Linked DNA regions of Homo sapiens: all the other regions are linked to region 3. The links come from fine-mapping of genetic effects on gene expression. A gene starts in region 3. Each other region holds a variant in brackets. All regions are shown on one strand. Distances are between the middles of the regions.

Region 1 (8,038 bases), 23 kb after region 3:
GAGGTGGGAGGATTGCTTGAGCCCAGGAAGTGGAGGTTCCAGTGAGCCGAGATTGTACCACTGCACTCTAGCCTGGCCGACAGAGCAAAACCCTGTCTCAAAAATAAATAAATAGGCCAGGTGTGGTGGCCCAAGCCTATAATTCCAGCACTTTGGGAGGCCGAGTTGGGCAGATCACCTGATGTCAGGAGTTCAAGACCAGCTTGGCTGACATGGCGAAACCCTGTCTCTACTAAAAATACAAAAATTAGCTGGGCGTGGTGGTGTGTGCCTCTAGTCCCACCTACTTGGGAGGCTGAGGCAGGAGAATCGCTTGAACCCAGGAGGCGGAGGTTGCGGTGAGCCAAGGTTGTTCCACTGCACTCCAGCCTGGGCAACAGAGCAAGACTGTCTCTCTCCAAATAAATAAATAAATAAATAAATAAATAAATAGCACTTTTTGGCCAGGGGTGGTGGCTCATGCCTGTAATCCCAGCACTTTGAAGGAGGCCGAGGTGGGCAGATTGCTTGAGCCCAGGAGTTCAAGACCAGCCTGGGCAACGTGACAAAACTCCATCATTACTAAAAATAGAAAAATCAGCCGGAAGTGGTGCCCGCCTCAGCTTCGAGGGTGCAACGAGCCGAGATTGTGCCACTGCACTCCAGCCTGGACGATGGGAGTGGGATCCTGTCTCAAAAAAGAAAAAAAAAGCACTTTTCCACCCTCTTCTTGGGCCTTTTTTTTTTTTCAATGGCTCTGTAAGGATCACAGCCCAGTCTTCAATGTTTTATCTGTCATCTTTGTGTTCTTGTGTCCTGGTGCAGTCTTTGATCAACCTACCTTAGAAACTGAGTTAGGAGATATCCTGTAGATTATTTTATACTGAGTTTGCCCTGGAGTAAGAAGGAAACGAACCTAAACTCTGGACCTACTGTAGTGAAACGAGAATTGCCCTGTGTTTCTTCCTAGGTTCAATGTGGCTTAATTGTGGTGGCCTACAAAGATGGATCACCTGCCCACCCACATTTCATGGATGCAGAGCTCTGTTCCCAGTACTGGACCAAGTGGCTTCTTCGACTAGAAGAATATACGGAAAAGAAAAAGAACCAGAATATTCAGAAACCAGAATATTCAGAATAGGGAGCAAGTTGCTATTTGGGAACATTCAGCACCTTCTCACAGTTTGGGAACATATATTGCTGTTTACTCCAGTGTAAAAATGAGGTGCCACTGGATCTGAGTGCTACACGAACACAAGTAGAAGTATTAATTTGTTGAAATGTGTTGTTACCAAAAAGACTGAAAAGCCCCAAAGTCTAGATATAAAGACCTAGACTTCGGCACGCGAAATCCCAGCTATGCTACCTCTTATTTACCTGAAAGGAGGACACGCAGGATGGGCAGTCATGCTGGTGACTCTTGTACTCCCTTGAGGGACATTGGGGGGGGGGGGGCGTGGTCCCAGGCAGGATGCCCAGTCTTTGAGCTGAGATTGGAAGGCAGTGAGGCTGAGGGTGCCAAGATTTCCCCAGGGTTCACCCAGAGGGGAAGGGGCTACATGCCCCCAGCTGTGTGCAGGGAGGACACATCAGCCCACTACCGCTGCCAACACCAATGCCTAAAACTTGTTTCATACATTGGGGTTTTCTATATATTTCAGCTGGGAAAAGCTTACATTTAACCTTTTGAAAAAATAAATACGTGATTAGCCTCAACTAAACATTGCTGACTATAAAGACAGTATATTCACCATGTCGCTGGCAATATGTCATTGCGTAACACCAAATAACCCCCCAGAAGTAGCCAGAGGCCAGTTTGAACATCACAATTCTAAGTGTTTTAGTAACTATTTCTGGCGTGAGTCAACAGATCATGTAGATAGAGTCAATTATTGTTTGTGGAGTTTTTCAGCTATAGGGGAGGGGAACTATTAAAATCCATTTGTTTCTATTCAATAGGTAATAAAAATTAGTTGTCCCTGGGTTTGGGAAACTTAAATGCCCATTACAGCCCTGGGGAAGGGTTTTCTGTCTTATGGAGTGAGTCTTAGCATTTAAGTTATACAGTTGCTGCCTTAAAATAGTAGCCTGCTACAATGACTTCTTTGGGTAGCCATTTTCATAAGAAATAAAATACAAGATATGAGTAATGAAGCTTTGGTTTTGTTTACTTTGTGTGTTTATAGGATAATTTTATAAACCTGGAAATTGTTTGCACTTTTTTTATAATTCAGAATTTTACAAGCCCAATAGCTTTGGTGAGAGTTCTGTGTAAGTGCATAAAAGAAAGCGTCCTCGGCTGGGCGCAGTGGCTCACGCCTGAAATCCCAGCACTTTGGGAGGCCGAGGCGGGCGGATCACAAGGTCAGGAGATCGAGACCATCCTGGGTAACACGGTGAAACCCCGTCTCTACTAAAAATACAAAAAATTAGCTGGGCGTCGTGGCGGGCGCCTGTAGTCCCAGGTGCTCCGGAGGCTGAGGCAGGAGAATGGCGTATACCCGGAAGGCGGAGCTTGCAGTGAGCCGAGATCACGCCACTGCACTCCAGCCTGGGCGACAGAGCGAGACTCCGTTTAAAAAAAAAAAAAAAAAAAAGCCTCCTCACTAAGCCCTCAGCCACGGTCACCTAGCAAGGAAAGCAATATTCAGGTAGGAGATGGGAGGATCAAGGGGGACCTTTGTATTATCTCTATACACTTCTGCATTCATGTGGGTTTTTCTCAAGCTGCAGATACATATTTCTGTAGCCTGTAAATTCCAGTCAAAAATGAAGTGAGGCAATTAAAAGTTGTGCTAGCAGAGTTTGCCACTCTGCTCTAATAAGCCTCAACCTAGAATTTAGGAGGCTAGACCTAACAAAATTTCTTTTTATTTTTCTTTTTTTTTTTTTTTGAGACCATCTGGCTCTGTCAGCCAGGCTGGAGTGCGGTGGGCTCACTGCAGCCTCCGCCTTCCGGGCTCAAGCAATTCTCCTGCCTCAGCTTCCCAAGTAGCTGGGATTACAGGCGTGCACCACCATGCCCTGCTAATTTTTGTATTTTTAGTAGAGACAGGGCTTCGTCATGTTGACCAGGGTAGTCTCAAACTCCTGACCTCAGGTGATCCGCCTGCCTCAGCCTCCCGAAGTGCTGGGATTACAGGCGTGAGTCACTATGTCCAGCTGCAAAATTTCATTTTAATACAGGTGTTCTGTTATGTAAATAGAAATTTGTCTCAGACCTGTGACTTTGTACTAGGAGTCTCCCAAGATAATGGTGGCCTGAAAAGTTCTATGAGGGAGCCCCTCAGGAGAGTGTGACCAGGAGGATGTGGTTGGTATAAGAACAGAGAAGGTAAATCCCTGGGCAGGTTTTCTTGACCTCAAGGGCTCACCAGTTTCTCCTGATAATCATGATACTCCTCGGGGGTCACATCTCCTGAGATGTTAATGTCAACGGAAAAAGTTATTGTTACTACGAAAGCATAGGAGGAGAAAGTCAAATTTGAGTTTCTAAATGAGTTGCAGTTTTTCAAGAATTAACATGTATGAGGCAGTGGCTTACGCCTGTAATCTCAGCACTTTGGGAGGCCGAGGCGGGTGAATCACTTGAGGTCAGGAGTTCAGGACCAGCCTGGCCAACATGGTGAAACCCTGCTTCTCTACTAAAAATTAAACTAGCTGGGCCTGGTGGTGCACACCTGTAGTCCCATCTGCTTGGGGAACTAAGACGGGAGAATTGTTTGAACCCAGGAGGCAGAGGT[C/T]GCAGTGAGCTAAGGCCACGCCACTGCACTCCAGCCTGGGCAGCAGAGCGAGTCTCCGTCTCAAAAAAAAAAAAAAAAAAAAAGGAATTAACACGTATGTTAGGAATTGTTGGTTGCCATCTCTTTGCCGAAGTGAAATACTGCATATGAAACTCCAGTGAAATGAAACAGCATTCAAAATAAGGAGAGACGCTCAAGGATAATTTACATTTTTTTAAAGGAGGTGTGTGTATATTGCTTTTCTGAGGAGGCTTTCTCAGAAGTACAGAATGTTGCCTTCCAGTGTTTAGTTTTGAGAAAATCCGTTGGCTTCAAAGCTAACTGCATTTCCTTTTCCTCCACAGTTCTACCCATTCTTACCAATGCAGTCAGCAACTGACAGAAGTTCCATGCTGACACAAAAGCCAATTTTGTTTTTTCCAAAAAAAAAAAAAAAAAAGTATAAATATATACACATACATGTATGGCCTTTTTCCTCCTTACACCTGGCCTCTTCCTCAGAGCCTGATAATCTGAGAACATTAGCCTCTATAACCCTATTATAATTCTAGGAAAACTCGTCAGTGTATGACCTACGGTTTCATATGTGTTGACCTTGGTAAATACAGGAAGGGGGTTAGTCATAAGTCAGTGTGTTCCTAGGTAACCAATTTGGCTACTGGCTTTAAAAGGAATTGGAGAAGGGTACTTTGTTTTAATCACTGAGGCTTTCCACCCGAGCAATTAAATATTTGATTATAACCTACCCTGTGTTCCTGCCCACCCCTCAACAAAAGAGTGAAGGAAGGGAATCATTGGAGTAAAAAACATTAAGAAACAAAATAGAGAATAGTTGAAACTTCCATGTTTAAAGAAACAATAAGTTGTTTGGAGCTATGTGTTAAATCACTCAATGCTAAGTAAAAAGTAGAACTGACTTTTCCTTCCTGCCTCCCTTCCCGCCAGCAGAGGCCTAAAAGTTAAGCAGATATGTGCTTCTGCTGGAAGTCTAACCTACTGATCCACTTCAGTTATTTATACTATTGAAGGGAACTAGAGAGAATCTCTGGGGAGAGACCCCAGAATGAGCAAAAGGCTTGTATGTTGCCATGACAATAACAATTGTCAGGTTGAGTAATGCATTTGTGAAGATCCAATCATAAAAAGATGGCCAGGCACAGTGGCTCATGACTGTAATCTCAGCACTTTGGGACGCTGAGGCAGGCGGATCATTTGAGCTCAGGAGTTTGAGACCAGCCTGGGCAACATGGCAAAACCCCATCTCTACCAAAAATACAAAAAAGTAGCCAGGTGTGGTGGCATGCACCTGTGGTCCTAGCTACTTGGGAGGCTGAGGGAGGATCGCTTGAGCCTGGGAGGTGGTGGTTGTAGTGAGCCAAGATTGCACCACTGCACTCCAGCCTCAGCAACAGAATGAGACCCTGTCTCAAATAAATAAATAAATAATGTTTTGGGTTCAGATTTGAGGGTTTTTTCCCATTTTACTTAAGAAATAGATATAAAATATGTAGATTGTTACAGGCCAGGTGCAGGGGTTCACACCTTGAACCCAATGCTTTGGGAGGCCAAGGCTAGAAGATCGCTTGAGGCCAGGAGCTGGAGACCAGCTTAGGCAACATAGAAAGACTCCCATCTCTAAAAAGTAAAAAGTCGTGTAATCCCAGCACTTTGGGAGGTCGAGGCAGGCGGATCACGAGGTCAGGAGATCGAGACCTTCCTGGCTAGCACAGTGAAACCCTGTCTCTACTAAAAATACAAAAAATTAGCCAGGCGTGGTGGTGGGTGCCTATAGTCCCAGCTACTCGGGAGGCTGAGGCAGGAGAATGGCATGAACCCGGGAGGCGGAGCTTGCAGTGAGCCAAGATCACGCCACTGCACTCCAGTCTGGGCGACAGAGCGAGACTTTGTCTTGGGAAAAAAAAAAAAAAGTCGTTGGGCATGGGGGTCATGCTGATAGTCCTAGCTACTTGGGAGGCTGAGACAAGAGGATCACTTGAGTCCAGGTGTCCAAGGCTGCAGAGAGCTATGATCACACCACTACACTCCAGCCTGGGTGAGACCTTGTCTCTAAAACAAACAACAACAACAACAAAAAATAGACCAGGCCAGCGCGGTGTCTCATGCCTGTAATCCCAGCACTTTGGGAGACTGAGACGGGTGGATCTTCTGAGGTCAGGAGATCGAGACCAGCCTGGCCAACATGGTGAAACCCCGTCTCTACTAAAAATATAAAAATTAGTCGGGCGTGGTGGTGGGCACCTGTAATTCCAGCCATTTGGGAGGCTGAGGCACGAGAATTGCTTGAACCCAGGAGACAGAGGTTGCAGTGAGCCAAGACCATGCCACTCCACTCCAGCCTGGGCAACAGAGCGAGCAAGACTCAGTCTTCTAAAAAAAAAAAAAAAAAAAAAAGCATTACAGATAAAAGCTGTTGCCTTGTTTTCTTAATCCCATTTCCCTCTCCCCTGAGACAAATGCCGTCATAAATTTGATGTGGGTTTTTTTGTATAGTTTTACTGTGTGTACTGGTTTCCATGTATAATATAGTTTTGCTTTCTGTGTTTTTAGATTTACTTGCTTTATCTCAACTTTGTTTTTGAGATGTCTCCAGGTTCACCAATTCTAGATCTTTCATAACTGCTTTTAACTCCTCTGCAGTTCTCCCTCCTGTTTTATTGTCATGCTAATGGACTGTTCGGTTAACAGTGTTTTGCTACTCCAGACGATGCAGCAGTGAACACCTTTGCACGTGTTTTCTGGTACACACAATACACATGCAATATAGTGGAAAGTGCAGTATGGATTGTGACTCTGCCACTTACTAGCTCTGTGACCTTGGACTAGTTACTTGACCTTTTTTTTTTTTTTTTTTTGAGAGGGAGTCTCACTCTGTCGCCCAGGCTGGAGTGCAGTGGCACGATCTCGGCTCACTGCAAGCTCGGCCTCCAGCGTTCACGCCATTCTCGTGCCTCAGCCTCCTGAGTAGCTGGGACTATAGGCACCCGCCACCACGCCCGGCTAATTTTTTTTGTATTTTTAGTAGAGACGGGGTTTCACCTTGTTAGCCAGGATGGTCTCGATCTCCTGACCTCGTGATCCACCCACCTCGGCCTCCCAAAGTGCTGGGATTACAGGCGTGGGCCACCGCACCCGGCCTGTTACTTGACCTTTTTGTGCTTGATTTCCTCATCTGTAATTTGGGGGAAAATAATAGTATCTGCTTCTTGAAATTGTGAGGATTGAATGAGCGAAGCATTCAGAAAAGTGCCTGACACATGGTGGGAACAAAATGTTAGCCATCCTCCTATCAAATGATCAGACCTGGATGTGTCTCTGCTGGGTCAAAGCTTGAACATTACCACCAAATTCCTCTCCAAAACAGTGACATCGACTTAATGTCCCACCAGTGGTGTCTGAAATTTCCTGATTTCTCGCATATTCTCTAACACAAGAGTTGTGAGCCCCTCTTCTGACGGTATGAAAACCATTTTTTTTTTGGAACAGCATTAACGCGTGAATAAAATCTGCTTTAAAACGCGACTGTCATCTAGTGGTGAGAGAAGTACACTGCAATTATGGGGCAGAAGCCAAAAATGGGCGGACCTACATCTATCTCCGGGTAATTTGGGCATTTTAGTCACCAACACAGGTCTGTTTTGAATAAAATCAACTACATGAGTGTTCTTCCTTTACCTCTGTATTTTCAGGCAGCTTGTACTTCTCACTTTTTCTACTACAATAATATAGAAGCCTGGCTACACAGCCCAGTGAGGCCCCTTGCTACCAAATGCATCTGGGTCACCGGTTCGGAAAAGTGGAGTGAGATAAAGTAGAAATGAGGCTATTTACCAAACTGGTAGGAAACTGCAGCTCCAACCAGGGCGGGCTTCCCACAGGCAGCACTGATTTTCCAGCAGGAGAGATGGCAATTCCCACGTTGGTGCAGGTCATACAGGCACTGCAGGGGACTCAGCTCAGTCGGCTCACCAGAGCCCCAGTTAATGCGTCCCAATCAGCCTCAGCCATTCTCTGCGAGGACTTCTAAAAGGATTGAAAAGTGTATGAAAGTGTTAGATATTAATCATCAGAGACATAGATATAGTTTTAAAGATCTGTTAGATAACAAATATTATCTAACAGGTTAGGTAACATGCTACAATTTTGTGATGAACAAAAATGTTCATTAAAGGTAATAGTGTAAAAAAGCAATGTTGCTGAAATGTAACCTAATGTGTCTTTAAGTAATAGTATCACTAAACTAATGGCATATTAAAAGTTTTTTAAAAAAAGAAGCCGTGTGCGGTGGCTTGTGCATG
Region 2 (8,038 bases), 40 kb before region 3:
AAACTTTCCAACTTTCTCACAGTGTTGTTGGTAAGATCAGGTACAGCTCTCAGACAAAGGTCGAGGTTATCAGCATGAAACCGTGGCACTATTCTGTGTGCCAGGCAAAGGGAGCCACAGGTTAGTCTGAGTTGGGTATTCTGGGGCTTTTGAACTCTAGGTGGTCACATGGAGACTTTAAGGTAGAATGAACATAAGCCGTAAAAGACAGCAGAGTTGGAGCCTACTGGGCTCCGCCTGGTTTTAACTGCTCCCAACACAACAATCACAACTGCCAATCTCCAAGTTCCAAAGAACTGGCTCTGCCAACGACTCAGAAATAAGTTTTGAGCATAATCTAGCCCGTAGTTGATATCAAGCAGAAGATGTGATCTGTGGTTCTCATAGCTCACAATCTATGCAGAACCCAAAGAGAATATGTAACAATTAACTGAGCAAAACCAGCAGCAAATCCTGGAACATCGTGTGGAACTAGAAGAAGATGGTGGTTTGTTGAAAGAACACAGGAGCCCTGAAGGAGCTCCAAATGGTCAAGGTTGGAAGAATTTAAACAATAAGAAAAATAATGATAGTTTAGGACAATAACCCATAGAGTTAAATAAATGTCCACAAGTCCACACTGATATAAGTATTTGATTAAATAAGTCAATAGGGAAGTGACAGCTCTTCCTTGCAATGAAAATCCAGTCAATCCATGCGGAAGGAAGGAGCAAAGGAGAAATCAGCATTAGGTCAACACCACAGTGGTGATTGTTGCAGACAAGAGCTGCTAATAGACAACAGAATAGGTGGAAGGTTTGAGGAAAAAAGGGGTTTGCAAAGCCTTAAGTATCTCTTCCAGGAGGTTTGTTGACAAGGGTGGGGTTTGGGGACAGAAAAAACATTACCAAGGAAAAGCCCATCAGAGACCACTTGACCAGGTGATCAGGGCCATCATCACAGACGTAAGCCATCAACGCCATGCCCCCGTGACACGTGCAGTGAGCAGGATGCAGCCCCAGGCCTCTGGCGCCCTTGCCTGGGATGCACAACCTGAGCCCAAGTTCAGACAGGCCTGAACTAAGAGACTTCTGCAAAGTAACTGATCAATACTCTTCATGGGTATCTAGGTCCTGAAAGACAAGGAATGACCAAGGAACTATTATAGAGTCTAGAAGACTAGAGAGAAAAAAACAACTATATGCAAATGCGGGATCCTGGATGGGATTCTGGAGCAAGAAAAAGACGTTAATGGGAAAACCAGTGAAGTTCACACGGGATCTTTGGTTTGATTAAGGCTGCTGTACTGAGGTTAATTTCCTGGTTCTGATTACTGTGCTATGGCTTTGCAAATTGTGCTATGGTTTTGCAAGATTGGGGTCAACTGCTGGAGGGACATAGAGAAGTTGCCTGTACCAGGCTTGCAAATTTTCTGCTACTTTTACTACTAGTTTTCTAAAAGTGGGTCAAAATATAAAGGTTTTTTAAAAAAGCATCAAATGTCCAGTTTTTCAGCAGTATCTTTATTAGAAAAGGAACAATCCCCACATTGTGTTGATGTGAGCAGTACTCAAAACTGAGGCAACAGATCTCAAAATATTTTGGCATGTGGGAGTGGGGAGGTAAAGGCTGAAGCCTCCTCTGTCCGAAGCATGCCCCCGAGGCTGGGAGGAGGCAAAAATGACAAATCACATCTGAATCTGTTTGGCAGAAAAAATGTCCAGTGACCTGTCCGAGGGCCAGTCACACATTTATCAGGAGTATTAGCAGCTCCGCATTCCCAGTGCAGGTCTCCCAGGTCCACGCCCTAGCCTCAGCCCAGGACAGGCTCTGATTTCTCCGAAAATGATGTGCAAATCTGTTTCAAACCACATGACCTTTTGCCACAACCTCTTTGTGGCTTGTTCTATTGGATCAGAAGCCAGGAGTATTTTCGGAACATTGCTAATGCTCTGAGCATCTCAGTTCTAGGCCTGTAGGCCACATATGATGTGCGTTGGGCCAGAGGCCCAGGTCAAGGTGTCTCGAGGGAAATTGGAGTCAATGGTGAAGTGAGAAAGCTCTTGTGAGGCCTTTGGCCCCAGTGGGAGGGCCAGGGACAGAGGTGGGCCTGCCTGGTGAGCCCACCTGCAGGCAAGAGGCACCCTGGGGAGGTGCCAGGAAGCAGGGCGCAAGGCAAGGAGGCAGGAACAGCCACGTCTGCTCCTGCCCTTTAAACAAATACCAGGCTGTTCGAGTCCAGAGAAGAAATAAATATTGACAAAGGTGCGGAGCGGCAGGAAGGCCAGGTGGCCGAGGCCCCAGAAGGAACATGGCCTAGATAGGGTCTCCTGGGATGACTGCGAGGAAGCCTCAGCCCCGAGCCACCCTCCCCAGGGGCCCTTGGCGAGGCTGCCTCTACGGAGGTCCTTCCCCCGTCTCGGCAGGTGCTTCGGCACCTTGAGGGCTTGGACTCAGGCTGTCAGGATGAGGAGCCTATCCACGGGATCAGTTGCTGGTGTTTGCCAAAGGTGTGTCCCAGAGGGGCCACCCGTAGCCTCTGACGGTGCCACGGCTGGAAGGCCCTGGCCAAACACCTGTCCCACTTCAACAGCGCGTTCAGTGGATCCCCCAAACCAAAGGGCCTGCTGGCGTTCTTCAGTGAGCTTCTCAAAGTGTGGGTGCAGGGCTCTCAATAGAGGCCCCTGGGCGCTGGGTAAGAGGCACATTCCTGAGCCCACACCTACCCCTCCAGGACACTGCAGGTCGAAGCTCAGGAATGTGCATTTTCACCACCTTCCCTAGTGATTTTAGGCAGAGGGCTCATTAGAGCCAAGTAACAGAAGAGGAAGCGAAGTCTCAGAGAGGGAGCAGCACTCTTTGGCAGCACAGGGAGTGAGGGGCAGCGAGGGAGGAGGGTCCAGGGCAGAGTGAAGTGGCCACACCTGCTCTGTCCCTTGGCTGGAAACAGCCTAATGGTCCAGACGACCCCCTGGGCTATGGGAGCTCAAATCACTTCCCGCCAGAAGGCTTCTCTGACCCCTCACCTCCAGCCCAGGGAGATGCCCCTGCCTGTCCCCTGGGCTCCGCGGCCCCTGGGCTTCCTGCTCCCCTGGCACTGGGCACACTGGAATGCAAATAACCACCGACCCTTGAATGTCCCCACCAGCATGGTGCCTGGCGTGTAGTGGATACGGCCGGGATGCAGGTGCTTGAGCCATGCCATCAGGAATCTCTCCCATCATCTCAGTCCTGCCTTCCCTTCTATGGCCCCCTGCAGTCCCCACTAACCCCAGCTTGCCCTGCAGCTCCAACAGAATGGGAGTGCATCCCCAACTATCAGCCCGGCCACAGTCCCGGGGCTCCCTGTCCTTGGACTGCCAGGGGTCAGGTGCCAGTGTGTGAGCCAGTATCTGTGGCTGGATGCAAGGAGATGAGGCTCCCCTAGGCTAGACCCCAGTGCTCTGGCCACAGCTGCATGCGGGGTGGGGGCAGCCTACCAGAAAGGGCAAGACTGGAAGTGGGGAGGTGCCCCACAGGAAAACCGGGATTCTACCAAGGGCAGGAGGCTGGGCAGGCGGAAACCAGCACCATCCACTCCAGCCCACCTGCCCTCCTGACCTCCCACAATGGCTGCTCTGATGACCAGAAGGTTCCTCAGAAGCCAGTTAAATCTGTTTCTCCTACCCCACACACCTGGCTCTGCCTCTTCCTTTGTTCCCTTGGTGGTCCTGAAAGGCTGGCTGGCTGCTGTCACGTTCCCCACCAACCACCCCAAACCCCACTCCCCTGCCCTCGGGGTATCCCTGGTCCCCCCCACCTTCTCATATGTGCAGTCTTCATGTCGTGGATTCCAGACCCCGGCCCTGCTGGCTGCCTGCCCAGCCAAGAACACCTGCCGTGGACACCTCCCCACGCCTGGGCCACCACCTGCCCAGTCCTCATCACCCGCCATCCAAAAAGTCACTCTGGTGTTGAAGACTCATCTAAACCTGGACCCCAAAATGCTACTGGCATTTAGTCACTATTCCACAGGCCCGTTCTGATTATTTGTTATTTTATTTTATTTGAGGCAGGGTCTTGCTCTGTCACCCAGGCTGGAGTGCAATGGTGCAATCACTAGCTCACTGCAGCCTTGATTTTCTGGGCTCAGATGATCCTCCCACCTCAGCCTCCCAAGTAGCTGGGACCACAGGCACACACCACCATGCCCAGCTAATTTTTTTATTTTTTGGTAGAGACAGGGTCTCCCTATGTTGCCCAGGCTGCGTGATTTTAAAAACATAAATATCTCCAAATTATCTGACCCTCCTAGAGATGAAATCTCCCTGTGGCCGCTGTT[C/CT]TTTTTTTTTTTTTTTTTTTTGAGATGGAGTCTCTCCATGCTGCCCAGGCTGAGCTTGAACTCCTGGCCTCAAGCTATCCTCCTGCCTCAGCCTCCCAAAATGCTGTGACTACAGGTGTGAGACATGGCACCAAGCCTGTGGCCACTTTTTCTTTATTTTCACATGAGATAAAGACACCACCTGAGAAAGTATTTGAGTGTGTGTGTGTGTGTGTGTGTGTGTGTGTAGCTGGGGTATGGAGTCACATGTGCGTGTGGGAAACAAGCCTGAAGGGTTGCTTTGGCACATCACCTCTGGGTCTTGCCATTGCAGTGATTTATTTGCTTTTCTGTATTTTCTACCTTAACATGTAATTTTGGGGAAATTAAAAAATCAATTTAAGAAACTTAATGGATAAACAAAAGACAGTCAATACTGGAAAAGGCACAAATCATGAAGGTAAACCCATAGGCATGGATGTGAATCTCAGCAGTGTGTGGTCTTGGGCAAGTGGCTTGTGCCTTTGCCTCTCTGAGGCCTGGTTTCTCACCCCCCCAAAATGGGGGATTATATAGTAAATGGCAAAAGTGGCTGTAATCTTTGCCACTTCTCCCATCAAAAGATAGAGTTTGTTTTCCCTCCCCCTGAATCTAGGCTGCCCTTGTAAGTTGTTTTGGTTAGTGAAATGCAGGAGAAGGGATGGTGTGCTTGTTCCAAGTGGACCTCAAGGGCCTTGCAGCTTCTACTCACTCTCTTGGAACCCCGCCCAGCTGCCATGAGAACAGCCTGGGCTAGCCCACTGGAGGATGAGAGCCCACACAGAACTAAGACAAGCTATCTCAGTTGACCCCATTCTGAGCCAGCCAGCTGGCCCCAGCAGACCTGGAAGTTGACCTCTGACAACTGAGTGAGCCCAGCTACCAGAAGAACTGCCCAGCTGAGCACAGCCATTAGAAATAAATAGTTTGGGCTGGGTGCAGTGGCTCACACCTGTAATCCCAGCACTCTGGGAGGCCAAGGTGGGTGGATCATGAGGTCAGGAGATCAAGACCATCCTGTGAATGGTGAAACCCCATCTCTACTAAAATTAAAAATACAAAAAAAAAAATTAGCCGGGTGTGGTAGTGGGCACCTGTAGTCCCAGCTACTCAGGAGGCTGAGGCGGGAATGGTGTGAACCCGGGAGGCAGAGCTTGCAGCTAGCCGAGATCATGCCACTGCACTCCAGCCTGGGCGACAGAGCAAGACTCCTTCTCAAAAATAAATAAATAAATAAAATAAACAGTTTGGGGGTAGTTTGTTATGTAGCTAACAACAGCTGACAAACACACTAAACATGCCCCTAACTTATGACCTTTGCCCTTGCTCTTTGCTCTGCCTGAAACCCCACTCCCTGCAAACTCCATGGGCCTTTTCTCTCTCACTGCCTTCAGGTCTCTGCTCAGTGAGGTCTCCCCTGGCCAGTCCATATAAAAAGCCCCTCTCCCATCACTCTCCTTCGTATATATCTTGCCATAGCACTTACCACCTCGCTTCTTTATGTATTTACTTGCTTATTTGTTTATTGTCTCTCTTCCCCCAACACACACACCATGGAATATGAGTGTCATGGGGGCAAGGAGATTCTCTATTTTGTCTACCACTATTAGCGCCCAGCACCTGGTAGGGGTTCAGATATTTGTGGAATAAACAAGTTCATCTTTTGCCTTAGGGGCTCCCATCCAGCTGGCCACAGCGCTCTCACTAAGAAGACGTATTCTGGGCACCTCCCAGCTGCCCGCCTGGCTCTGGGCCCTCAATCCCTGAATGACAGTGGTCACTGCACTTGAATAACCCTCTAGAGTGTAAAGGGACTTCCTCCTTTCCTGCAACCCACTAATGGGGTCTGCAGACCCCACTCTCCAGCCCTGTTTCTCAGGTGAGATAACTGAGGCGGAGAGACTAGTGCAGGTGTAGGGACACAGGTATCTTGTGGCACATCTTGCCTGGTGCTCCCTCAGGCCATTGGACAGAGGCACCTCCTCCCACCACCAAGAGCTGGGCCAGGCATCAGGGATCCCTGGTCTGAGCCTTTTCTTCTCCTAACTTGCATTGAGACCTGAACAGTCCCTAACAGGGAGACAAAAAAAACTTCTCAACAGTGAGAAGCCTCTGACAATCCCAGCACCTCATTAAATAGACTTTCATCATTTCATGCAAAGCTACCAAAGGAAAGAAAACATCAGGGGCTGTTAGACCTTGGCCAGGGGTCCCCTCAACTCTCAGAGCGTCAGGAAGGCTGAGGAAGAGGGGTGAGGGGGAGGGTCCCCCGCAGCCTCTGGCTGGCCTCACCCAGCCATCTCCCATGGCACCTCCTGCCCTGGTCAGAAGCCCTCCTGCCCTCCTGGGCACTCAGGGGAAATCCTCTGCAACTTGGGATGAAAACCACAGAGCAAGAGTCCCTGGAATTCACGTGTGACTGCTTGGTAATGTTGCCTTAGCCCAGCTTTCCCCAAGAGCTGACCCAAAAGGAAGATTCAAGCAGAAGCATTTTGTGGGGGGATGGCCCCAGGAAGCCCCAGTAGGAGTGTGTGCTAACTCTGGGCATTCCCAGCTTGGTGGAGTGTGCCCCTGCCATCAGGGGTGCCCTTGAGAAGAGAGGCAGGCAGGTCCTGATGTAGGATGCCACTGGGTGTGCAGGAAGGAACTGCAGGTGACTTTGGGGGTCCAGGGCCCTGAGGAAAACTGAGAACAGCACTGCTGATCCCAGGGGAGGGGATGGAGAGCAAAGGGTGACTCTAGGGAGGCATTTCAGCAGAGGAGACCCATGAGAAGGGGAGGACCCTCCATCTTCAGGCTGGGTATTGAATTTTCCAAGCCCACCTGGCTAACGACTTTGCCCCCAGAGGCACTTGAGCAAAGGGCCAGCCCCAGCCAGAGCCAGGAGAGCAGGCTCTGCACTGCCGCAGGAGAGCTGCTAGCCCAGCCTGGCTACACCATGGAAGCCCAAAGACAGGAGCTCTTTTACAGAAATGAAACCCCTAGAATTAGTCCCCAGACCAATGGCTCTGCATGCAAAGGCACAGACAGCATAGACTGAAAGTCTACTGTGTGCATAGCTGCAGCCAGGAGATGGGCAGGGGCCCATAAGAGAACACCAAGGTCATGTTCATTAAGCATTCACTGAGGCTGTGCATGGCCTACCTCAGCGCTCACAGCCCCTCCTCCTAGTGGCAACTACGACTCTCCCCTGAGATAGGACCGGTATTCCAAACACCTCTCCGGGGCAGGCAGGGGTGGCAGCCCCTTCACTAACTGGACTCTCCTTTTGTGCTCAGAGTAACCCCCCTCCCATTTTACCAACGTGGAAAGGGATGAGCTTCAGGAGCTTGGCCATGGTCACCGGTGCCAGGGAGTGAGACAGAGGCAGAACCCTGGGAGGCCTGGGTGATTCAAACACATCACAGAGTCTTTACCCTAAGGGAGCTGCAATCCAGCCGGGGAAATAAGACCCCGAGGAAAATGAGCAAGAGCAGTTAAACCGCAACATAAGGCAATAATACAAGGAGGCTACCACCCAGAGCCGGACATTCCACACCCAGCAGTCGGCCTCGCCGCCTCCCGCCCGCTTCTTCTTGTAAGGGCCTTTCTCAAGAAGTGGCTAAAAAGGGACTTAGGATAGCACTTGGCGGACAAAAGGGGTTGTTGGCCCCTGCTCTAAAACATTTGCCAACACATCTTCCCATCCCCTAGGGCTTTAAGAATGATCCCCACCCTTAG
Region 3 (7,032 bases):
GAAGAATCAAGTATGTCCCCCTACCTTAGTGAGTCTTAATTAACTCCATCCTTAGGGAGAATTCCAAACCAAAGTAAATTATCAGGAGGGCATTTAAACAATTTAAGTAACACACATTTCAGGTAACACACAAAACATTTCAGTTGACTACCGAAATTGTATTATGGCAAAAAGTTGCCCAAGACTTAGTTTCCCATTATTTCATACTTGCCCCAAACTCCCTTTCAGTTAACCATAACACCATCTAGGCCAGACCACAGCAGGTTATCAGCATCAGCAGAGATCAGAAAACAAAAATAAAGCCACGCGTCAGGGTAATTATTTATTTTTATTGTCTCTTTATTCCTGTAATGTAAAAAGGAAAACAATGTCATGTAACTCTCTTCGCTACAGATACGGACAGTTTCTGTAGCCTCTAAAACAGGCAGGAAATGGCCTTCATAACCATTCTCCAATTTTGCTGGAGGATCAGGGTGGTGGAAGTCATTTTAAAAACCAGCTGCAATATACTGTACTACCAGAGAGTGGGGTGAAGCAATTGAGTCCTTTTACCTAGCTGACTCCGAATCAAGACAGCTAAAAGAATGTACCAGAAAGAAAGAAAAAATAAAATGCTACCAAAATCCCAATCCATTATCTACCCTTTATGGAGAAAAGTACCTTTATAATGTTTTACAAAGAATCGTGGTCTCAAGTTTCCACTTTGTTTTAGTAATAAAGAACTTTCAAAAAAAAAACCACTCTAAACAACACCCTCCTGTATAGAAAGCTCTATTTTAATAATTAATGCAATGATACCCTTGTTGGAACAATCCAGCCGCTTTGAAACTCTGGTATTTACTTACTAGATGAACAAGTTTCTCTATGGAGGTGCCTTTAACTTCTCAAGAAATGTGTAAGTTAAGACGGCTCCAAATTACATTTTAAGAGAGCCTTGTATTTTTAGAGGTTCTTTTTCATCGGTCAGAAAAACTTACGTTGACGATTCTGCAAGAAAGGTTGCTCGCAAACCATGCATCGCAAAGCTACCGAGGCAAATTTAAAGAACCAATGAAAAAGAGTGGAGGCTCGTCTGAATCTTTAATTGGCTATGGGAATTTCAATTTATTGCATAAATAATCTTTTAGACCTCAAGATACACGTGACCTAGGGACAGTTTACATCAATGGGCAAGACTTAAAAATAGACACCAAGTTCAGCAAGTATTTGAGCACCTACTAAAAATTACACAACTCCCACAACAACGCATTTTGCGTTTCTAAAGTTGTAAGCAGCATGTTCGGACGCTTGATGCAATTTCCCAAGTTGTTTGGGCCCCCCCCCCAAAAAAGTCTTCTCAGTAAAAGGTGGGGGGAAGGAGGGTATTTTGGGGGCAACAAACCAAACTGGTCTGTCGCATGTTAAGTCAATTTCACGTTCACCTACTGGTCACCACGAAGCCGAGGAAAGTTTTAAAAAGAACATTCCGGGGTCTCCAGAGATCATCTCTCCAAGTCCGCTCGGCACCGGCGCCTGAGCTGGGGCTAAGGTCCCGCGTCTCTGGTTCTGTCCTAATAGAATCCGGGACATCCACAGGGATTCCCCGGGGCAGCCTTCAGTGAAGACCAGGGAGAGGGGCCGCCCGGGTCTCACGGGTGCTTCCCGCGCTGGGGATGGCGGCGAGCAGCCACGGCCTATGGACGCGCAAGGGAAAGAATGCAGCGACCCCGGAGCTCGCAGGGCCGCCCGCCCAGGAGTCTGAGGCTGGGAGGACCTCACCTTGCTGCGGTCCTCCTCCTGCTGCTGCAGCAACTCGGGAACCGCGGCCATGGCGACGCGGGACTCGAGCAGGGGCCGCCTGGCTGTGCGAGGAAAGAAGAAGCTGGGCCGCCGCCGCCGCCGCCTGGGCGCCTCTCGGGGGCGGCCACGGCCCCGCCTCCGCCGGCCTCCCTGCCCGACGGCGGCAGGAGGCCTCCGGACTCCGCCACCATCCCAGCTGCCCCGGGAGCAGGCGAGCAGGGCGCCACGTGCTCCCCCAGAGCAGCCTCCCAGTCCCCGCTGCCGTCCATCTTGGAGCCGGGCAAAGACGCCACGTGGGGCCTACCCTTGCTCCGCTCCACGAGGAGGCCGCCAACCGCAGGGCCGCGACACGGACGGGAAGCAACGGACACTCTCCCAGCAAGACGCGTCTAGAGAAAGACCGCGTTTCGGTGCGGGGGGAATTTATTACTCAGCCCGAGTCCAAGATGGCAGCGAGCGCTGACGTCACCAGATCTCGTGAGAGCAGAAGGGCGCGATTTGGAGGCTCCCGCGCTTCGGAGACGCCGGCCCTTCCGCTCGGAGAGGTACTCCCTGCCTCTAACTGGTGGCGCGTTGGCGGAGGCCGACGAAAGCCTCGGGTGGGGCGTGAGCGCCGCGGGGCATTCTGGACCTGCTTTGCCTTAGGCTGTGCCTAATTCGAAACCAAAGCGCGGGACGGATGAAAGTACGGGTCGCGAGAGGTTGTTCGCGCCTTGAGAGTTAAGCGAAGTGTGGTGGCTTCCAAGGTACCGACACTTGCCGTAGGCTGGGCTTTTATTTAAGTCGTCTTTTCTCTAATCCAGACTCCTGCCACAGGGGCCACCGCCGTCCTGGCCCCGCCAGGGGTCCGCACCCACGGCGGAGCGGGAGGCGACTTTTTGCGGTCACAGTAATGGGACCTCAGCGCCGCCACCAGCTCTGACCGGCGAGCGACGGGACCCTCCAACCCGATTTCCACGTCTGTGCAACGGGTTCATTCTAGACCCACGGTAGAGGGTGTGAGGACCAAATGAGAAGTATCCACACAGAATACTTAGCAGAGAGCCTGGTGTCTAGGAATTAGTCGTCGTCTGTCACCTAGGACTGTGTGGCCGCCATGGGACGGGCTCCATCTTTGTGTTTTTCCGTGTCTCGCACACGCCTCCCTTCCTGGGCGTCACATTCCTGCAGATTAGAAACTGGGACGTCTTGCCTCAAGCTGTCTACTAATTCGCATTTAGTATGTGTCGGTCCTTCGGGTATTGAGTCTTGATTTATTTATAAATTTTTTTTGGAGGCAGGGTCTCGCTCTGTCGACTTTCTTAAGAAAGGGCTCTGTCCAAACATGTCGAAAAAGTTCACAATTTTGATGTGCAATATCATTCTGATGCAGCTTTCGCTTTGATGGTTGTTTTCTCTCCAATAGGAATACAAACATAAAGGCCTTCGACCGTTGCAAATAGACTAAAGTGAAAACAAATCTGAATGAAGATGAAGTTATTTCAGACCATTTGCAGGCAGCTCAGGAGTTCAAAGTTTTCTGTGGAATCAGCTGCCCTTGTGGCTTTCTCTACTTCCTCTTACTCATGTGGCCGGAAGAAAAAAGTGAACCCATATGAAGAAGTGGACCAAGAAAAATACTCTAATTTAGTTCAGTCTGTCTTGTCATCCAGAGGCGTCGCCCAGACCCCGGGATCGGTGGAGGAAGATGCTTTGCTCTGTGGACCCGTGAGCAAGCATAAGCTGCCAAACCAAGGTGAGGACAGACGAGTGCCACAAAACTGGTTTCCTATCTTCAATCCAGAGAGAAGTGATAAACCAAATGCAAGTGATCCTTCAGTTCCTTTGAAAATCCCCTTGCAAAGGAATGTGATACCAAGTGTGACCCGAGTCCTTCAGCAGACCATGACAAAACAACAGGTTTTCTTGTTGGAGAGGTGGAAACAGCGGATGATTCTGGAACTGGGAGAAGATGGCTTTAAAGAATACACTTCAAGTAATTATCTCAATTCTGATTCTATATGTTTGCTATGTTTTCTATAATAGAGAGCAACGGTGTCAAAAGAATGAGGTTTGGTTTTGTTTTTTTAACTTACTAGCAAGGAACTCCCTTCAGATAGTAATTAACATTAAATAGCACTTTATGTGTATTAACTCACTTGATCCTCATGGTAGTCCTGTGGAGTATAGATACTGTTATCCACATTTTACAGATGAAACTAAAATAGATCAAATATTTGACTAAATAATACATAAAATTCACTTGTTTTATAAGCTACCAACAATATTAGAATTGCTTGTTTTCCTTGATTATTGAAAAAAGTCACCTGGTAACAGAATTCTAGTTGTTTGCTAGATAATTCTGTTTAGAATCCAGTAAATACCCACTGTCCTACTTATTAGCGTAAACTGACTCGTAAATTTAAAGACCTTGAAGCAGACCAGAACACATGACCTATATTTAGACCTTGGTAAACATAATCAGAGGTTCTTCATAAGGATCTGAGGATAAATACACTTTAACCTTCAACTTCTAATTTACTAACTTGGACAAGTGAGGAGAATAGCTTCCTTAAATTTAATATTCCATTCAAAAACAAAGACCATTGGCACTGGTGAATTAGCTAGTCCCATAAATTATATAGGGGTCTTTTGTTAAAGGAAAGTTTCACATCAATCATTCCTTTACCCAAGCTTCCCAAAGTGCAGTACATGTACTCTTAGTAGTACACAAACTCTTTCATTTTTGTTTTAAGAATAGTGTACTGACCCTTGCCATAGCCTGGGCTTCTATTTAAGTCGTCTTTTCCCTAATCCAGACTCCTAAAACTATGCGTGTAACACATTAAACATGTCACATGTTCTAAAGAAAAATACTAAGTATATATAGGTGGTATTGGATATGTACCAAATGGTCAAGGCCTTTGCTCCTTATAATATTCCTCAGCTGTGTGGGGCAAGGATTATATATGCAAGAGCTAACTGCCTTCCTAAGATAGTTAATTAGTAGCAACCACCAAACTATTGTCTGCTTTCCAAGCAAGCAACATAAAAATCTTCTAATGGCATCTTACAGTTTTGTATTTGTACCACTAAAATTTAGAATTGATAGTTTTCTCATGAGAAGTTATTTTCCTTAAACCAGGAATGTACAGCTGAAATTACTAATAAGAAATGTATTATTAAAAGGCAGAAACCTGCTGGAACACATGGGACCCCAGGGCCTGTAGCTCTTGGCACAAAGTAAGGAAGTGCACCAGAGAGGAATTTCTGTTTGGAATGTGAATGAGCCCCAATAGCCCAGGCAGAGAGAAGACTGGTTGTTTTTTTTTTCATAGAGTCAGCTTTGTTGATCTAGATTAGCACTCAGCTGTGTTTCTCAGTTAACTCAGTAGCAACCTTAAGAAATGAGCAGAATCGCTTACCCCAGCACCCCGCCCAGACTTGACCGCCGGGACCCAAGTGATTCTCCCATCTCAGCCTGCTGAGTAGCTGGGACCACAGGCGTGCACCACCATGCCTGGCTAATTTTTTTATTTTTTGTAGCGACAAGGGTCTCCCTATGTTGCCCAGGCTAGTCTCCAACTCCTGTCTTCAAGTGGTGCTCCCACCTCGGCCTCCCAGAATACTGAGACTACAGGTGTGACCCACTGTGCCCAGGCAGAATCACTCTTTTTAGAAAATAAGTATTAGTAAGCAGTGGGTTCTGAAATAAATAAAGGGACAATTAGTGTCATGGTGAATAAAAGAAAAAGGGCTCACTAAATTGATTAACGGGTCTGGAGGATACTGGATCCCAAACCCAAGAAGGTGGCACCCAAGAAGAATTACATTTTAAAAATTAAGAAGATTTTTTTAATGAAAAATATTGGATCAGTAATTTCTACCCAGTCTTCTCAAAGGTGAGAGCATAGAAATGTGTCTGGCATTCTTCCAAATACTTGAGCAGTTTCCCAAGCATCAGTTCATCTTTTGAAGACTGGTGGGAATGAGAAAGTCTGACTTATTCTGATTTATATTTTGTGTATAAATACACACAAAGGGATGGGGTTTAGGTTTTAATTTTTTTTTTTTTTTTTTTGCTACGCTGATTTAATCCTGAAGTATTAGCCATCCTGCCAGTTCCATCATGAGAATACTGGAGATGCATGAAGGTTTTTTTTAGTGCACTTCATATACGAGGACTTGAAAACATTTCACTTTCATTACTTTGAGTGAATAAGCAGACTTGATGCTACATGCAGTGAATATTCTTGGATCATTTTTTATTTTTATAAATTGAATCATGTTGAATGTTCTGAGCCTTAGTGTCTAAAGGATCCTGTAATCTAGGTTTTCATGTTTGTGATCATGTGTATATGAAGAACCTAGCCAGGGGTAAGTTTGCAGCGAGAAATGTATGGTCTATTGGCATGGCATTTGCTAAGTTTTTTTCTTCCTGTTTTTAACATGTTTGTCTTCTGCTTCATTAACCTAGTGTGTAGATGAATGCTATACACTTCTTTTTCCTAGGCTTTAATTCCATCAGTCATAAATTTCTTGTAGGTCTTTCACGTGTTAATAATTCCAATTGAGTCAAGTAAATTTGGAGTAGAATAACTTAGTTCCTAAGTTGAATTTCATTTAACTCTCCAAATAATTTTTCAGAAGGGATTCCATTTTTTGCTAATGATAGAATTGACATTTCCAGCTGGGCATAGTGGCTCATGCCTGTAATCCTAGCACTTTGGGAGGCCGAAGCAGGCGGATCACTTGAGGTCAGGAGTTCAAAACCAGCCTGGCCAAAATGGCGAAACCCCATCTCTACTAAAAATACAAAAAAATTAGCCGGGCGCAGCGATCACTTGTAATCCCAGCTACTACGGAGGCTGAGGCAGGAGAATCGCTTGAACCTGGGAGGTGGAGATTGCAGTGAGCCGAGATCATACCACTGCACTCCAGCCTGGAAAAAAAAAGAATTGACATTTCCATCTTTGTAAAAAATAGTTGAAGGCCGAGTGCAGTGGCTCATGCCTGTAATCCCAGCACTCTGGGAGACCAAGGTGGGACGATTGCTTGAGGCCAGGTGTTTAAGACCAGCCTAGGCAACGTAGAGAGATTGCATCTCTACAAAAAAAAAATTTTTTTGAATTAGCCAGGCGTGGTGGCACATGCCTGTAGAGGAAGCTGAGACAGGAGGATTGCTTAAGGCCAGGTGTTCAAGGTTACAGTGAGCAATGATCGAGCCAGTACACTCCATCCTGGGTGACAAGTAAGACCCTGTCTCAAAAAAAA
Region 4 (8,038 bases), 260 kb after region 3:
GTCTTTCTGGGGCAGTAGCTGCTTCACGTGATCCTCTGTAATCACACAGCGTTCTCCCTGTGTCTCCACACCATTGCCCTCTGCATGTATGTTCAAATTTGCCTTTTTTACAAGGGTACCAGTGACCCCATCTTAACTTAGCTAAATCTGCAAAGATTCTATTTCCAAGTAAGCTCACAATCTGAGATACTAGAGATAGGATTTCAACATATGTTTTTTGAGGAATACAATTCAACCCATAGCAGCTGCCCACAAGAGACCATGTCTCTAAATAAATAAACAAAACAACAAAACAATGCTTTCTTTACAGAAATCTCTCTCAGTGGCTGGGAAGACAGTATACCAAAAGCCCAGGTTTAACTTGATTTGATGGGTGATCCTAGGAATTTTTGTTCTTTGTATGCAACTTCCTATTGGCTAATAGGACCCAAAAAAAATCCATTTCAGGGACTCAGAGGGTAGGCGGTGTCTGTGTATCAGCCTGGCCTTATGCCCCCTCGGAGCCCCAGGCTGACTCATGGCAGGGTTCTCTCAGCTCAGCCCTCGTGCTTTCTTTGTTTCTCTTGTTGTTGAGCACAGCCTGGTTTTCCTGCCGGCTCCCACAGAGAGTGTGCCCTGTCCCACATCTCTGACGAGCTGACAATACAGAGCTGCAGGCTGGAGCCCCTGAGGACTGAGAGTATACTGACCTCTAACTTCTTCACCCTTGTCTGCAAGAAAAGAAAGCCTCTGAGCTGCAGGGTGGCAGGTCCTGGCTGTGTCATGATTCTTGAATCACAGATGTTTTTCTTGGCTGAATGCCGGGGCCAAACTATCCAGGGAACACTGGTGGGGCAGGGAAAAAAAAGAAGAAAGCCCTAAGTTTGTTTTCTTTGCTGTCTTTTTCATCCAGATTTAAACAGTGTCAAGGCTAAGACTGAGCAGATCTAGGGACAAACAGCAACAACCACCATCTGGAAAATCAGCGGGCAAGGTGCTCTGGCTAGGCCAGCAGGCACAGCAGCCCTTCAGAGGTGGTGACATTTGACTCTCGGCATAATCCCCCGTGTCCTGCCATTCTTTTGCTTACCTTTCCCATTCTGGGGTCTGCACTAAGGTCTGGAATTGAGAGCTGCTATATAGGACCTGATGTTAGCAGGCGTGTGCCCCAACTGTTTTCTCCAGTATCCTAAAAGAAGAGAAACCCCAAGCCAGCTACATGGATAATTCTTCTCTGGCCAAGAAAGAAAAATGCTCGCATGGATTATGCATTTTCAGAAGGAACCGTGCATTCTCAGAAGGGTGTTTTTCCTTTGCCAAGCTCTGTGCTGGGTTTTTCCTGTGCTGGGCTCAGACAGTGTTTGGCACAGAGTAGTCATTCATTTCACAAGTATGTATTGAGCACGTGTGATGTATTGTTCTAGGTGTTACTTAAATGGACAAAAGAGTAAAATAAAACCATAGTATCTAAACTAATTACAGAGTTTCTAAATGTTGGTGACATAGAGGCCTGGGACATTATTTTAGCTCTGTCATGTAGAGATCAATAGTGATAATTTGTTTTGTTCATGATTAATTAGACAGCAATATCATTGATGCTTCTATTCCAGAGCTGAGGCACCTTATGGTGCCAGTAAGGAGGGAAATGCCAGGAAAAAAAGGGTGAGGACAGTCAAAGGGCACAGGAATCAACCTGAAAGAGCTCCTAATGGCCAAAGCTGAAGCAATTTAAGACTTAAAAAAAGTAATGTTGGATTATAACCATAGAATAAACATCCATGAGTCCATACTGATACCAGTAAGTTTTTAAAAATCAGTAAATAAATAAATAAGGAAGAAAGAGCAGCTTTTGCTTATGTGTAGAAGGAATGAGGAAAATAGAAAATCACTGAGAAAAGCACAATAATAATTGTTGGACTCACCAATGAATTCTAAAACTATTCAGCAAAAGTTTGAGGACAAACAGGATATTTGCAGACTCAAGTATGTCCCCCAAAATGTTTATTAATTACAAAGAGAAATATAGTAATTTCAGAGCAGGCAAATCCAAGAGACACCACCTTAACTAGGTGATCAAAGATACTGAGAAGTGACAGCGTGCTGGCAGCCCTCACAGCCCTCGCTCGCTCTGGGTGCCTCCTCGGCCTTGGCACCCACTCTGGCCCTGCTTGAGGAGCCCTTCAGCCCGCCACTGCACTGTGGGAGCCCCTTTCTGGGCTGGCCAAGGCCAGAGCTGGCTCCCTCAGCTTGCAGGGGAGTGTGGAGGGAGAGACGCGAGCTGGAACCAGGGCTGCGCACGGTGCTGGCGGGCCAGCTGGAGTTCCGGGTGGGCGTGGGCTTGGCGGGCCCCGCACTTGGAGCAGCCAGTCGGCGCTGCCGGCTCCGGGCAATGAGGGGCTTAGAACCCAGGCCAATGGCTGCGGAGGGTATGTTGGGTCCCCCAGCAGTGCCGGCCCACCGGCACTGCGCTCGATTTCTCACCGGGCCTTAGCTGCCTCCCTGCGGGGCAGGGCTCAGGACCTGCAGTCCACCATGCCTGAGCCTCCTCCTCCTCCGTGGGCTCCTGTGCGGCCTGAGCCTCCCCGACGAGCGTGGCCCCCCGCTCCACAGCGCCCAGTCCCATCGACCACCCAAGGGCTGAGGAGTGCAGGCGCACGGCGCGGGACTGGCAGGCAGCTCCACCTGCTGCCCTGGTGCTGGATCCACTGGGTGAAGCCAGCTGGGCTCCTGAGTCTGGTGGGGACTTGGAGAACTTTTATGTCTAGCCAAGGGATTGTAAATACACCAATGGGCACTCTGTATCTAGCTCAAGGTTTGTGAATGCACCAATCAGCACCCTGTGTCTAGCTCAGGGTTTGTGAATGCACCAATCAACACTCTGTATCTAGCTATTCGGGTGGGGACTTGGAGAACCTTTGTATGGACACTCTGTATCTAGCTAATCTAGTGGGGACGTGGAGAACCTTTGTGTCTAGCTCAGGGATTGTAAATGCACCAATCAGCACCCTGTCAAAACAGACCACTGGGCTCTCTGTAAAATGGACCAATCAGCAGGATGTGGGTAGGGCCAGATAAGAGAATAAAAGCAGGCTGCCAGAGCCAGCAGTGGCAACCTGCTCGGGTCTCCTTCCACGCTGTGGAAGCTTTGTTCTTTCGCTTTTCGCAAATCCTGCTGCTGCTGCTCACTCTTTGGGTCTGCACTACCTTTATGAGCTGTAACATACGCCGTGAAGGTCTGCAGCTTCACCCCTGAAGCCAGCGAGATCGCAAACCCACCGGGGGGAGCGAACAACTCCAGACGCGCGCCCTTAAGAGCTGTAACACTCACTGCGAAGGGCTGCAGCTTCACTCCTGAGCCAGCGAGACCACGAACCCACCAGAAGGAAGAAACTACGAACACATCCGAACATCAGAAGGAACAAACTCTGGACACGCCGCCTTTAAGAACTGTAGCACTCACCACGAGGGTCCGCGGCTTCATTCTTAAAGTCAGTGAGACCAAGAACCCACCAATTCCGGACACAATGCCATCACCAGTAAGAAGATACATCAACATGATGTTCCCTCAGTAGGATGCAGGGAGAAGGAACAATGCCACCTGTGGTTTCCTGCCCAAAATGAATAGACTCCATCTAACGCCGAGACACACCCACGTTGAGAGATATTCTACGAAATCAGTGACCAGTACTTTTCAACAGTGGCAAAGTCATGAATGACAAGGGAAGACTGAGGGACTGTCACAGGTTTTAGGAGATTAAGGAGACATGACATCTATATGTGATAGTGGGAAAACTGTTGAAGCCCAAATAAAGTCTGCAGCTATGTTAATAGTATAGTACCCATGTCCATTTAGAATTTTTTTTTTTTTTTTTTTTTTTTTTTTTGAGACTTGAGACTCTCTCCATCACCCAGGCTGGAGTGCAGTAGGGCGATCTCGGCTCAGTGCAAGCTCCGCCTCCCAGGTTCACGCCATTCTCCTTCCTTAGCACCCCCTTCCCTCTTCCCCACCCCCCCACCCCCGCCATCAACTGGGACTACAGGCACCCGCCACCACGCCCAGCTAATTTTTTGTGTTTTTAGTAGAGACGGGGTTTCACTGTGTTAGCCAGGATGGTCTCGATCTCCTGACCTTGTGATCCGCCCGCCTTGGCCTCCAAAAGTGCTGGGATTACAGGCGTGAGCCACCGCGCCCAGCCTAGAAAAAAATTTTTTATAGTAAATAATCAAACAAGAATGTACATTTCTTAATTTTAATGTGGTTATACCAGATGTTGATATTGGGGGTAAAGGAGAACTCTACTATCTGCAACTTTTCTGTGAGCCTAAAACTGTTCTTTTTAAAAGCAAGAATACATTTGACGCTCAGTGCAGTGTCTCACACCTGTAATCCCAGCAGTTTGGAAGGGCGAGGGAGGCAGATCACCTGAGGTCAGGAGCCTAGCCAACATTATGAAACCCTGTCTCTACTAAAAATATAAAAACCAGCTGGACATGGTGGCAGGCACCTGCAGTCCTAGCTACTCTGGAGACTGAGGCAGGAGAATCCCTTGAACCCAGGAGATGGAGGTTGCAGTGAGCCGAGATCACTGTGCACTC[T/C]GCACTTAACTTTTTCAGAACAAAATACTGTATAAGCCACACTACCCCATACAAAGAACTGTAATTATTTGTAATTCTTATGAACTAGGTATTCATTTGTACAAATCTGGAAAGCCAGTGGGCGACAGAGTGAGACTCCGTCTCAAAAAAAACAAACAAAAAAAGGATACATTTGAAATCAGGTCTATTTTAGATTCCATAGAAAAAGATTTACTTTTAAAGATTCAGAATGGCCGGGTGTGGTGGCTCACACCTGTAATCCCAGCACTTTGGGAGGCCGAGGCAGCCAGATCATGAGGTCAGGAGATCGAGACCATCCTAGCTAACACGGTGAAACCTCGTCTCTACTAAAAGTACAAAAAATTAGCCAGGTGTGGTGGCGGGCGCCTGTAGTCCCAGCTACTCGGGAGACTGAGGCAGGAGAATGGCGTGAACCCAGGAGGCGGAGGTTGCAGTGAGCGGAGGTTGCAGTGAGCCAAGATTGTGCCACTGCACTCCAGCCTGGGCAACAGAGCAAGACTCCCTCTCAAAAAAAAAAAAAAAAAGATTCAGAATGGGCTGGGCGTGGTGGCTCACGCCTGTAATCCCAGCACTTTGGGAGGCCGAGGTGGCAGATCACCTGAGGACCAGCCTGGCTAACATGGTGAAACCCTGTCTCTACTAAAAATACAAAAATTAGCCAGGCATGGCGGCACCCACCTGTAATCTCAGCTACTCAGAAGGCTGAGGCAGGATAATCACTTGAACCTGGGAGGCGGACGTTGCAGTGAGCGGAGATCATGCCATTGCACTCCGGCCTGGGCGACAGAGAGAGACTCCGTCTCAGGAAAAAAAATAAAAAACAAAGATTCAGAATGATCTGGTTTTATAAAGCATGTGTTTATCATGAACTTGGTGTATTTAAGAGCGTAAACCCGTGTGTCTGTGAAAGGCTAAACCGGCTGTCAAGGTAACTGAGCCTTTGTTCTTGCTTTGCCCCTTTCTGACTCAGCATTACCAGGTCATCTTGGCTTTCCAGATTTGTACAAATGAATACCTAGTTCATAAGTATTACAAATGATTACAATTCTTTGTATGGGGGTAATGTGGCTTATACAGTATTTTGTTCTGAAAAACAAAGTAATACAAAAACTAGTCAGTGGTGTGAATTTTGTTTACCTGAAATCAGATGTCATGTTGATCACGTAACTTCTTCTGGCCTAACATTGACGCATTGATATCCTCAGACCAGGTCCAGAGAGGCCACTTCCCATAATACCAGGCTTTCATTACTGGCACCAAATTGGTGGGGAGAAAAAAGAAAGAAGGGATTTCTTTCTACTAAATAAACTCTTAGGACCTTCTGAGAGAAAGGATCAAATCTCAGGTAACCAGAAAGGTCACTGTGATTATGAAAATCATAGCAACCAATGGTTAAGCAGAAATGTAGATGACGCCATTTCTATTGTATCCATGTAACTACTGAGAAGAGTTAAATATTTCCTACTTCTACTGTCTGTGTACTTCTCAAAGAAACCTTTTTTTCAGTTGTTTTTTTTTTTTTTTTGGAGACTGAGTCTTGCTCCGTCGCCCAGGCTGGAGTGCAGTGACACAATCTTGGCTCACTGCAACCTCTGCCTCTCGGGTTCAAGCGATTCTCCCTGCTTCAGCCTCCCGAGTAGCTGGGACTACAAGTGCGTGCCACCGTGCCCGGCCTTTTAGTCTTTTTTAAAAAAAAATTTTGTATTTCCATAGTTTTTTTGGGGGGGAACAGGTGGTGTTTGGTTCCATGAGTAAGTTCTTTCGTGGTGATTTCTGAGATTTTGGTGCACCCACCACCCGAGCAGTGTACACGGAACCCAATTTGTAGACTTTTATCCCTCACCCCCTTCCCACCCTTTCCCCCTGGAGTCCCCACTGTCTATTGTATCATTATTATGCATTTGCGTCCTCATAGCTTAGCTCCCACTTACGAGTGAGAACATACGATGTTTGGTTTTTCCATTCCTGAGTTACTTCACTTAGAATCATAGTCTCCAATCCCATCAAAGTTGCTGGGAATGCCATTAATTCATTCCTTTTTATGGCTGAGTAGTATTCCATCACATATATATACCACAGTTCAAATAAACCTTTATTTTTAAGAATGCTGTATTTCTGGCCAGGCACAGTGACTCACGCCTGTAATCCCAGCACTTTGGGAAGCCAAGGCGGATGGATCACAAGGTCAAGAGTTCAAGACCATCCTAGCCAACATGGTGAAACCCCATCTCTACTAAAAATACAAAAATTAGCCAGGAGTGGTGGCATGTGCCTGTAGTCCTAGCTATTAGGGAAGCTGAGGCAGGAGAATCACTTGAACCCGGGAGGCGGAGGTTGCAGTGATCTGAGATTGCACCACTGCACTCCAGCCTGGGTGACAGAGCGAGACTCTGTCTCAAAAAAAAAAAATTGCTGTATTTCTTAACCAGGCACAGTGGCTCATGTTTGTAATCCTAGCACTTTGGGAGGCCGAGGCAGGCAGATCACTTGAGGCCAGGAGTTCAAGACCAACCTGGCCAACATGGTGAAACCCTGTCTCTACTAAAAATACAAAAATTAGCTGGGCGTCGTGGTACATGCTTGGAATCCCAGCTACTTGGAAGGCTGAGGCATGAGAATCACTTGAACGCAAGAGGTGGAGGTTGCAGTGAGCCAAGATCATGCTACTGCACTCCAGCCTGGGTGATGGAGTGACACTCTGTCTCAAAAAGAAAAAAAAGAAAAATGCTGTATTTTTAACAACATGTGCTATGTGTTCTTTCTTGGTCTATGAATAATAACCCTTATTGTGTAGGGAAAATGTGGCTGCAGCCAGGGTCACCATCGACACTTGTGCATACTGTGCACTACAAAATGCACCCAGCTGAGGGACAAGTAGGGGCTGACATCTGTCTTCCTCTCTGCTCCCCACGCTGCATGCCTGTGGGGCTGTAACTACCCAGAGGAATGCATGTCTTTTTCTAATTACACAAAGGTGCCAACTGGCTGTTAGCTCTACTCGTAGGTGTAGTGTATGTGTAATGGACTGGATCAGCAAATTGAGAGAGAGATTACAAGTTCAGTGCAGCAAAAGGCATTGTGGTGATCTATTTGAAATTCTTTACCATATTATGAAAAATATTCCTCTCTAAATCTAGTGTTTTCATTGAAAAATTCATACTCTCTGCCATACCAGAAACCTACTGTCACTACTCACATATTCTTCAGAAATTTCCTGAATACATCCAAATATATATTTTTGTACACACACACAGCCACAGCCACACATATATTCATTTATGCAAATGGAAGTTTGCTATTTTATCCCTTGTTTTTTTAAAAACTTCAAGATTTTTATTATTGTGGTAAAATATATATAACATAAACTATATCATTTTAATAATTTTTAAAGGGTAAAATTCAATAGCATTAAGGACATTTACATCATTTGTGAAACTCTCAT

Evidence for each region. PIP is the estimated chance that this variant, and not a neighbour inherited with it, causes the effect.
Region 1: its variant is fine-mapped to the expression of MGME1 in fibroblasts (GTEx, PIP above 0.99). The same link has a PIP of 0.9 or more in monocytes, spleen, subcutaneous fat, visceral fat and whole blood.
Region 2: its variant is fine-mapped to the expression of MGME1 in whole blood (INTERVAL, PIP 0.98).
Region 4: its variant is fine-mapped to the expression of MGME1 in coronary artery (GTEx, PIP 0.98).

What each region holds. Positions count from the first base shown.
Region 1 is chr20:17,988,990-17,997,027 of GRCh38, forward strand. It overlaps MGME1 (mitochondrial genome maintenance exonuclease 1), which reads left to right. Exons shown (of 5, transcript NM_052865.4): 5 at 950-2,133. The coding sequence ends at 1,120. Among named protein-coding and RNA genes, the nearest start is that of MGME1, 24 kb to the left of the region's middle. RefSeq lists an enhancer at 7,142-7,211. The variant C/T (reference allele first, on the strand shown) is at 3,723.
Region 2 is chr20:17,926,527-17,934,564 of GRCh38, forward strand. No RefSeq gene overlaps it. Among named protein-coding and RNA genes, the nearest start is that of SNORD17, 32 kb to the right of the region's middle. RefSeq lists an enhancer at 2,731-3,257 and a silencer at 4,996-5,196. The variant C/CT (reference allele first, on the strand shown) is at 4,301.
Region 3 is chr20:17,966,617-17,973,648 of GRCh38, forward strand. MGME1 (mitochondrial genome maintenance exonuclease 1) reads left to right here and starts at 2,402. Exons shown (of 5, transcript NM_052865.4): 1 at 2,402-2,525; 2 at 3,185-3,754. The coding sequence starts at 3,244. SNX5 (sorting nexin 5) reads right to left here and starts at 2,178. Exons shown (of 13, transcript NM_014426.4): 1 at 1,759-2,178. The coding sequence starts at 1,809. RefSeq lists enhancers at 891-1,645, 1,507-1,556, 1,607-1,776, 1,646-2,400, 2,017-2,326 and 3 more and a silencer at 1,807-2,016.
Region 4 is chr20:18,224,521-18,232,558 of GRCh38, forward strand. No RefSeq gene overlaps it. Among named protein-coding and RNA genes, the nearest start is that of ZNF133, 60 kb to the right of the region's middle. RefSeq lists an enhancer at 791-1,290. The variant T/C (reference allele first, on the strand shown) is at 4,576.